Linked DNA regions of Homo sapiens: region 2 is linked to region 1. A link means that fine-mapping ties the variant in region 1 to the expression of a gene that starts in the linked region. Tissue or cell type: skeletal muscle. Region 1 holds a variant in brackets; the other region holds the start of a gene. All regions are shown on one strand. Distances are from middle to middle.

Region 1 (4,381 bases):
TGAGGAGGCTTCTCCACCGTGAGTCTCAGACGGAGAGCTGTGCCCTCATTCACCTTTGGAACCTCTGACCTGAGGCACCTTGAGACGCAATAATATTAATACCTTAACTGCAAGACTCCGCGACTCACAGAGAGATGTAAGTGCAGGTAACAGAGAGCTGAAGGAACAATGACTCCAACAAATTCAATGGAAATTTAATTTCTATGTTGTAAAAGTCCAGAAGCTGATGGCCCAGGGTGGCCGTGGTGACTGCTTCACAGAACGCTCTGGATTGAGGCTCTTTTCATCTTGGCCTGTACTCCCAGGGTCTCCTGGCCCACAATGTCAGCTTCCACTCCAACCATCACATCTGCATTTGAAGATGAAGAAAGGTGAAAGAGGTAAAAACAAAAGGAGCATATGAGGTGATGGGTGGATGAACGGACAGACAGCTGGACGTGTGACAAGAAAGATGAGGAAGACAGCAGGATGGGTAGGAACGGGAGGATAGTGGCTGGATGGAAGGATATATGGATGGTTGATGGTGGGTGAATAAATGGTGTGTAGATGGGTGAACAGGTGGGTGAGTGGATACGTGGATGGTCAGTTGGGTGGATGGATGGGTGGATGGGTGGATGGATGGATGGGATGGTGGGGGAATGGGGAGATGGGCAGATGAGTGGGTGGATGATGGGTGGGTGGATGGATGGAAGGGTGCGTGGGTGAGTGGGTAGATGGGTGAGTGGTTGGGTAGGTGAGTGGGTAGATGGATGGATGGGAGGATGAGGCATGGGGGAATGGGGGATGGGTGGGAGTGGGTGAGTGGGAGGAGGGTGAATGAATGGATGGGCGGGTAAGTTGGTGAGTGGGTGGGTGAGTAGGGGGTATGGGGGTGAGTGGGAAGATGAGTGGGTGGGTGGGGGGGTATGGGGAAGAGTGGATGAGTGAGTGGATGGGTGGGTAGGGGGTTAGAGAGTCAGTGGATGAGTGGGTGGGTGGGTGGGGGTTGGAGGGTGGGAGGATGAGTGGGTGGGTGGCTGGGTAGGGGGTTGGAGGGTGTGTGGGAGGATGAGTGGGTGGGTGGGGGGTAGGGGGCTGAAGGGTGGGTGGGAGGATGGGTGAGTGTGTGGGTAGGGGGTTGGAGGGTGGGAGGATGAGTGGGTGGGTGGGTAGGGGGTTGGCAGGTGGGTGGGAGGATGGGTGGGTGGGGGGTTGGGGGTGAGTTGGTGGGTGGATGGGTGGGTAGGGGGATGGGGTTGCCTGGGTGGGTGGTTTAGGAAGCTGTGGAATGACTCCAAACGTGGAGTGAGGGAGCTCAGTTTGTACCACCGAACCTTTGCTCATCTCTCCCCTGGGCCCTCTTCCCTCTTCTCTCCAGAGCCCTCCTCAAATCTCACACCTCCATTTTCAAGAAGCTGGCCTCACCCATGCAGCCTCTGTAGCTCTCCTTCCCCTCCAAGCTTGTTTCTCTCGGCGCTGCCACCGTCGGATTCCTGTGCTGGTTCTTGCTGGTTTTCTTCACCTCCTGACCACCAGAACACTGGCGCCGGGAGGGCAGGGTCCGTGTGTTTCCACGGTTGATTTCCTAGAGGCTGCAGCAGCGCCTGGCACCGAGGAGGTGCTCCATCAATATTTGTTGAAAAGAAAGAAAAGGAAAGCAGGATGGAGATGGACTGACCCTGCCCAGCACCCCTGTCCAGCCCCTGCCCAGCACCCCTGTCCAGCCCCTGCCCAGCACCCCTGTCCAGCCCCTGCCCAGCACCCCTGTCCAGCCCCTGCCCAGACCCCTGCCCAGCCTCCCCTGTCTATTTTCCAGACAGCAGCCAGAGGCGTCTTTGCAGACACCACTGTCCTGCAGCAACCCTCTAAACCCTTCGCCGGCTCCACAGTTTGATCCAGGTCAGTCTGAGTTGCTCAGTCAGTCCTGAGACCTGCCCTCTCTTGTCCCTGTTCTCACTGCCCCCTGAGGCTTCCAGTCTTCCTTTAGGATCTGGGCCAAAATGGCCTCCTCCAAGAAGACCCCAGGCTGTTCTGTGAGCTGGTTTCCCCCTGTGTCCAGGAATGCCCCCACTCCCACAGTAGTGAAGTCTACTTTCCACCTGCTACCATCAGAGTTGAGCCCAGTTCTGGGCCTGGCACACAGGTGGGGCACTCCACAGGGTCTGACAACCCCTCCCACTGACCTGGTCTCTCCTCTGTGCCCACCAGGGACTCTATACTTGGGCCTAGGACTCTCATTCTGCAAGTCCCGCCTGGGCCCTTGCGGCCTCCATGGCATCCAGGGCCTCTTGTGGCCCATAGCAGGTGTGGGCTCTGCTCTTCAGCCTTCTGCAGCCTCCTGGGATGCTGTTCTGTTAGCAGCTCTTCTGGGGCAGGTCACTTTGGCATCAGCCACATCCACTTTTGTTTT[T/G]TTGAAGTGATATATGCACATCTGTCTTTTATAAATCAAATGTAGTAAGACGTAAAACAAAACTCAGCAGTCTCCTGCCCATGCCCTGAGTCCCCCACTCAGCAAGATAACTGCTTTCAACTCTGTTTCTTCCAGGAACCTCCTGATATGTTTCGGCTGTGTCCCCACCCTAATTCATCTTGAATTGCAGCTCCCATAATCCCCATGTGTCATGGGAGGGACCCAGTGGGAGGTAATTGAATCATGGGGGTGAGTTTTTCCTGTGCTGTTCTCGTGATAGTGAATAAGTCTCTCAAGATCTGATGGTTTTATAAAAGGCGGTTCTCCTGCACACGCTCTCTTGCCTGCCACCATGTAAGACGCGCCTTTGCTCCTCCTTCACTTTCCGCCATGATTATGAGGCCTCCCCAGCCATGTGGAACTGTGAGTCCATTAAACCTCTTTTTCTTTATAAATTACCCAGTCTTGGTAATTTATTACAGTGCGAGAACAGACTAGTACACCTCCAAATCTCTAAATAAAATGTTTATATTACTATTTCTTGATTTATTAATTTTAGGCATTGTTTAGGATTTCACTCCATTACACATTTGCTCTTCCCCGCCCCACATCCTCCCTATATACTATGTGAACATTTTTAGTTTAGGCCGGGTGCAGCAGCTCATGCCTGTAATCCCAGCACTTTGGGAGGCCAAGGCAAGCAGATTGCTGGAGCCCAGGAGTTTAAGACTAGCCTGGGCCATGTGATGAAACCCCATTTCTACCAAAACTACAAAAAATTAGCTGGGCATGGTGGCATGCACCTGTAGTCCCAGCTACAAATGAGGCTGAGGTGGGAGGATTGCCTGAGCCTGGGAGGTCTAGGATGCAGTGAGCTGTGATCACACCACTGCACTCCAGCCTGGGTGACAGAGTGAGACCTTGTCTCCAAAAAACAACAACAACAACAAAAAAGGCTGAGGCGGGCAGATCACGAGGTCAGGAGATCGAGACCATCCTGGCTAAAATGGTGAAACCCCGTCTCTACTAAAAATACAAAAAATTAGCCGGGCGTGGTGGCTTGCGCCTGTAGTCCCAGCTACTCAGGAGGCTGAGGCAGGAGAATGGCGTGAACCCAGGAGGTGGAGCTTGCAGTGAGCTGAGATCACACCACTGCACTCCAGCCTGGGCGACAGAGTGAGACTCCGTCTCAACAACAAAACAACAACAACAACAAAACCCCACAATACTTTTAGCTTAAAAATATTCCATATTTAAATTATCATGACTACATAAGAATTGTTCTTGCCTGAACAACGTTATATACTATAATTAAATGCTCTTTCCTGAGCAACTTCTTTGTTTTTCCTGGAGTTAAAAATTGCCTCCTGGTTTTCCTTTGTTTGGTTTTCTATGTGTCAACAACAAATTCTTCCTAAATGCTCTAATCATTTTAGAAATCTCTCGTGACATGGCTTCCACACAGAAACTTGCATTGTGTAATCTAGGAAGGCCATTTTCCCTGGATACCTTTCAGCAGGAGCCAACCAGTTTCCTGCCACAGCTGGACTGGCTGCTCTCCAGGCCTGCTGGCCCCTCCTGCCTCACCTGTGTTGGCACCCCCTTCTCTTTCTTGGTTGACTTCTCCTTGTAGGGGAGCATCCTTCAGATACTTCTTCAGAAGAGATGCATGGGAGATAAGTGTTTTGAGATTTAACAAATCTAACAGTGTCATTAGTATTTCCTCACACTAGACAGATAGTTTGGCTGGGTATAGAATTTGCTGTTGGGAGTCTCTTTTCCTCAGCATCTGTAAGGTACTCTGTCTTTGAGCTTCTGTGTGGTTACTGGAAGTCCAGTTCCATCTTTACTACTAATCCTTGGTATGTGTGGAGGCTAAAGTAACATACCATGGAAGCTAATCCACCATGCTGACTTCTGACTAACACTGGTTCCAGGAATGCCTCTGAGATTTTCAGTTTATCTGTTGTTTCTTGCATAAGAGCATATACT
Region 2 (4,381 bases), 140 kb before region 1:
GGTGGTGCAGAGGGGCCCTCCAGAGGTCTGTGGGTGCCGGGGCACCGGCAGCCTCTCCGTGTGCTCCCCACGGGGACGGGACCCCATGAGGAAAGGTGGACTCGGGGACTCCAAGTCCAGACTCGAGGTGCGGCCCCCTCACCTGGGCCCCCGTGTTCACACCACCCCTTGTCCTCACAGCAGCCTGGGGCTCAGTCCGGTCCTTAGGATCCAGTCCTGGCAGCGGAGGCCCCAGATGACCCCTGCAGCTTCCTTCCTGCAAGCTGGTTCCGGCCACAGCGCTCTTTTGCCTCTGGGACTTTCCTGATGCCCCAAGGTTGTGACCTTCCCAAGAGCAAGGCTGGGACCTGGCACAGTGGCTCACCCCTGTAATCCCAGCACTTTGGGAGGCCGAGGCAGGAGGACTGCTTGAGGCCAGGAGTTCAAGACCACCCTGGCCGAGATAGCAAAACCTCACCTCAAAAAATAATTTAAATAAATAAATAAATAAAAGCAGGGTTGCTTGGGGTAGGTGGGGCCCTGCCCTGCCCTGCCCTCTTCGGGCCCACCTCTCATGGAGCAGAGTCTGCCAGGTGTTAGGGTCCACACTCAGCGAGTACACATTCATTGAGGTGCTGGAGCTGTCAGACACCGCGGCCCCGCCTGCGATCTTTGCCTGTCCTGGGGCTGCCAGCTCCACGCTGCCCTGTATCTGCCCATCCATGGCATCGTAGAAGTGGAAGCTCCTGCCACGCTGCACGTCTAAAGCAAGGCCAGACCTGAGGCTGTGCCCAGCGCCCCGCCTCTCCCCCGCCCCCACCAGCCCTGTCCCAGCCCCAGGGCAGAGGGACCTTTGGAAAGGCCCCGGCCTCTGGAAGAGAGGCCCAGAGCTAGAGGCTGCAGAGCCCAGTGGATGGTTGGCCCCAGCCCGCTCCCCTCTCCCATCCAGCCTCCCTGGGGCTCTGCCTCAGCACCACATCAGGCACCTGGTTCCGCGGCATCCGGCTCCAGGATGTCCTTGATAGACAGGTTGACACACTTATAACGGGGTTTCCAGAACCATGAGCTTGAGGGCTTCCTAACCACCAGGCAGTAGGGCTGGAAGCCAGTGGAGCTCTGCAGGCTGGTCACAGGGATGAACTCCCCACCATGGTCCAGCTCCTGGACCACTCTCCGGACTACCCGCTCAAAGGCCGACCCCATGCTCCTGAGGAGGGGAAATGGGTCAGGCATTGTGCTCTCGGGGCGGGCGGGAGGGAGTGGGAGAAGGGTCAGTACTTGGATGTCTCCCATGATGGGGGACTCCTTCCCTCCAGAACAGCCCTGCCCAGCTCATCCTGGGATGCTCCCACTAGCAGAAAGCTTCTGTCCCCGGCCCTCCCCAACACAGAATTACAGTGTTCTCCCTGTTGTCTACGGTACCATGAGCACCTCCAGCCAGGGACAGTGAGGCCTGACGCCCAGACCTGCTCTAACACAGAGGGCTCTGTCCACTAGAATGGCTGCCTCTGGCTGGGAGGAAACAAGCTGTCACCTCCTGAGCGTGGTGCAGGGACCCACTGCAAAACCCAGCCAGAGTGTCACCAGGGACCCACTGCAAAACCCAGCCAGAGTGTCGCCCCACCCCAGCTGCGTCCTCCAGGGCCTTCTCTGTGCCTGGAGCTCCATGAGCCACCTGTCCAAGGCTGAGGCTTTGGGGGTCAGAGGCCATAGCGGGCCTCCGCTGGGATAGGGGGCACCTGGGCCACTGTGGAGGGGCTGCAGCTGCCCCAGGAAGCCTCTGAGTGCTGGGTCTGCTGAAAGTGGAGGCTGGGCCCAGAAGGCAGCTGGGGGCGGGAACAGCACCGGCCCGGGAACCTGGATGGCGGACCTGGGAGTCAAGCCCAAGCCCAGGTCCAAAGGCCGGGCCCCTGGGCTGGCCAGGGGCAGCCTTTCCCGAAGCCTGGAGCTTCCGCCCCCGTGTGCGGCGCGGGGCCTTCTGGGCGAACGCTGGGGCAGCAGGGCCAGCATCCCCCACCCGGGAGCCAGCGGCCGGCCCCACTCGGGAGCTCCAGCCAGGCCGGGGGAGGGGGCGGGGCGCAGCTCACCGTGACCGTCGGCGCCCCGAGGGTGGCGCGTCTGGCGCGTCTGCTCTCCCTGGGAGCCGTCCGGCGAGCAGGAGCTGGAGGTGCCCAGAGCTAAAAGTGAAACTGCAACCTGACGCAGGGCCCGCCCAGGACGCCCTCCCGGAACCGTCCCGGAGAGCCCGCCCCGGCCCCCTTCCTGCCCCCTCTTCCCGCCAGCCCGCCTGGAGCACCAGCCTCGCGCGTCCGGAGGAACCTTGGCTTGGCGCCCCATCCTGGTAGCCTCAAACTTCATAGCACTTTGTGGTTTTTCTTAAAACTCTGAGCCTGTGCCCGGGCGGATCACCTGAGGTCGGGAGTTCAAGACCAGACTGACCAACATGGTGAAACCCCGTCTCTACTAAAAATACAAAATTAGCCCGGCGTGGTGGCGCATGCCTGTGATCCCAGCTACCTGGGAGGCTGAGGCAAGAGAATCGCTTGAACCTGGGAGGTGTAGGTTGCAGTGAGCCGAGATCATGCCATTGTACTCCAGCCTGGGCGACAGAGTGAGACTCCGTCTCAAAAACAAACAAGCAAACAAACAACTTTGGGCCTGTGCCGAAGGGTCTGGGCAGATCTTCCAAAGATGTACAAAATGTAGAAATTGCCCTCAAGCAAATGCAAAGATGCTCAACACCCTTAGTCATCAAGGAAATGCAAATGGAATCCACAGAGAGATACTGCACACTGACAAAGATGGTCGTATTACTAAAGGTGAATAACCAGCGCGGGGGGCACGTGGAGTCACTGGAACATTTGTGCAATGCTGGTGGGAATGTCAACCCGTGCGGCCCTCTGGAATAAGCCTGGCAGCTCCTCCAAGAGTTACCGTGTGACCCAGCAATTCCACTCCTAGCTCCACCCACAGGAATTGAAAGCAAAGACGCAAACAGATGCCTGTGCACCAAAGTTCACGGCAGCATCCTTCGCCATAGTGGCAGCATCCGTCGTCACAGCGGCATCATCCTTCATCATAGCGGCAGCATCCGTCGTCACAGCGGCAGCATCCTTCGCCACAGCGGCAGCAGCTGTCGTCACAGCGGCATCATCCTTCGCCATAGCGGCAGCATCCTTCGCCAAAGCGGCAGCATCCTTCACCATAGCGGCAGCATCCTTCGCCATAGCGGCAGCATCCTTCGCCATAGCGGCAAGGTGGAAACCCTGTCCATCCACTGAGGCGTGCATAGACTAAACATGGCCAGTCCAGGCACTGGAATCCAGGCCGTAGAACGGCGCCCACGGTCAAAAGGAATGAGACCCTGATGCACTGGGCGACACAGACGGGCGACACAGACTTGGAGACATCATGCTAAGTGAAAAGCCAGGCACACGGAGCGGACGGCGTGATCCTGCTCACGTGATGTGTCCCGAATGGGCACGTCCAGAGGGAAGAAGGGAGATGGCGCTGCCGGTGCCCGGGACGGGGGTTGGGAGCGACGGTTGCTGGTTTGGGGTTTCTTTCTGGGGTGAGGAAGTGTTTTGATATTGGCCGTTGGTGATGTTTGCATACCTCTGAATATGCTAAGACCCACAGAATTGCACACTTTAAATGGATGAATTGTATGGTATGGGAATTACACAATTATGTCTCATTAAAGCAGTTATTTTAAAAATCTAGTGCCCAGTAGCAACACCTAGTCTCGGCACAGGCTCCCTCAGTGCCCTACTGACCTAAGTCATGGTGGGCCCAGGGCCATGGGCCCACCCCTGCACACGGTAGTCCTCCCACCCGGCCCTCCCAGCCGCTCCGCGGTTGTGGATGGGGCTACTTGGGCTTCGGCCCCACTCCTAGGCCTGACCACAGTGGGGACACAGTGGTGCCCTGCGGGTCCCTGCTGGTGCTGTCTCCTGGCTGTTTTGTGTATTTTTTGTTGTTTGTTTTGTTTTGTGTGAGGCAAGATCTCTCTGTCGCCCAGGCTGGAGTGCAGTGGCACAATCACCACTCACTGCAGCCTCGACCTCCTGGGCTCAAGTGATCCCCTCCTGTCAGTCTCCTGAGTAGCTGGGACTACAGGTGCTCAGCACCACACCTGGCAAAGTTTTCGTTTTTGTTTTGAGACTGAGTCTTGCTCTGTCACCAGGATGGAGTGCAGTGGCGTGATCTCAGCTCATTGCAACCTCTGCCTCCCAGGTTCAAGCGATTCTCCTGCCTCAGCCTCCCGAGTAGTTGGGACTACAGGCATGTACCACCACACCCGGCTAATTTTGTGTCTGTGTGTGAGAGACGGAGTGTTGCTCTTTTTTGCCCAGACTGGAGTGCAATGGCACAACCTCAGCTCATTGCAATCTCTGCCTCC

The links. PIP is the estimated chance that this variant, and not a neighbour inherited with it, causes the effect.
Region 2: it holds the start of GSDMD, and the variant in region 1 is the best candidate, but not a certain one, in a credible set for the expression of GSDMD in skeletal muscle (GTEx, PIP 0.80).

Annotation. Positions count from the first base shown.
Region 1 is chr8:143,414,943-143,419,323 of GRCh38, reverse strand. MAFA-AS1 (MAFA antisense RNA 1) reads right to left here. Exons shown (of 3, transcript NR_186795.1): 2 at 1,405-1,583; 3 at 174-349. Among named protein-coding and RNA genes, the nearest start is that of MAFA-AS1, 8.9 kb to the right of the region's middle. The variant T/G (reference allele first, on the strand shown) is at 2,390.
Region 2 is chr8:143,556,137-143,560,517 of GRCh38, reverse strand. GSDMD (gasdermin D) reads right to left here and starts at 2,172. Exons shown (of 11, transcript NM_024736.7): 1 at 2,067-2,172; 2 at 966-1,186; 3 at 549-741. The coding sequence starts at 1,182. LOC100310756 (a long non-coding RNA gene) reads left to right here and starts at 2,247. Exons shown (of 1, transcript NR_147504.1): 1 at 2,247-3,699. RefSeq lists an enhancer at 1,716-2,357.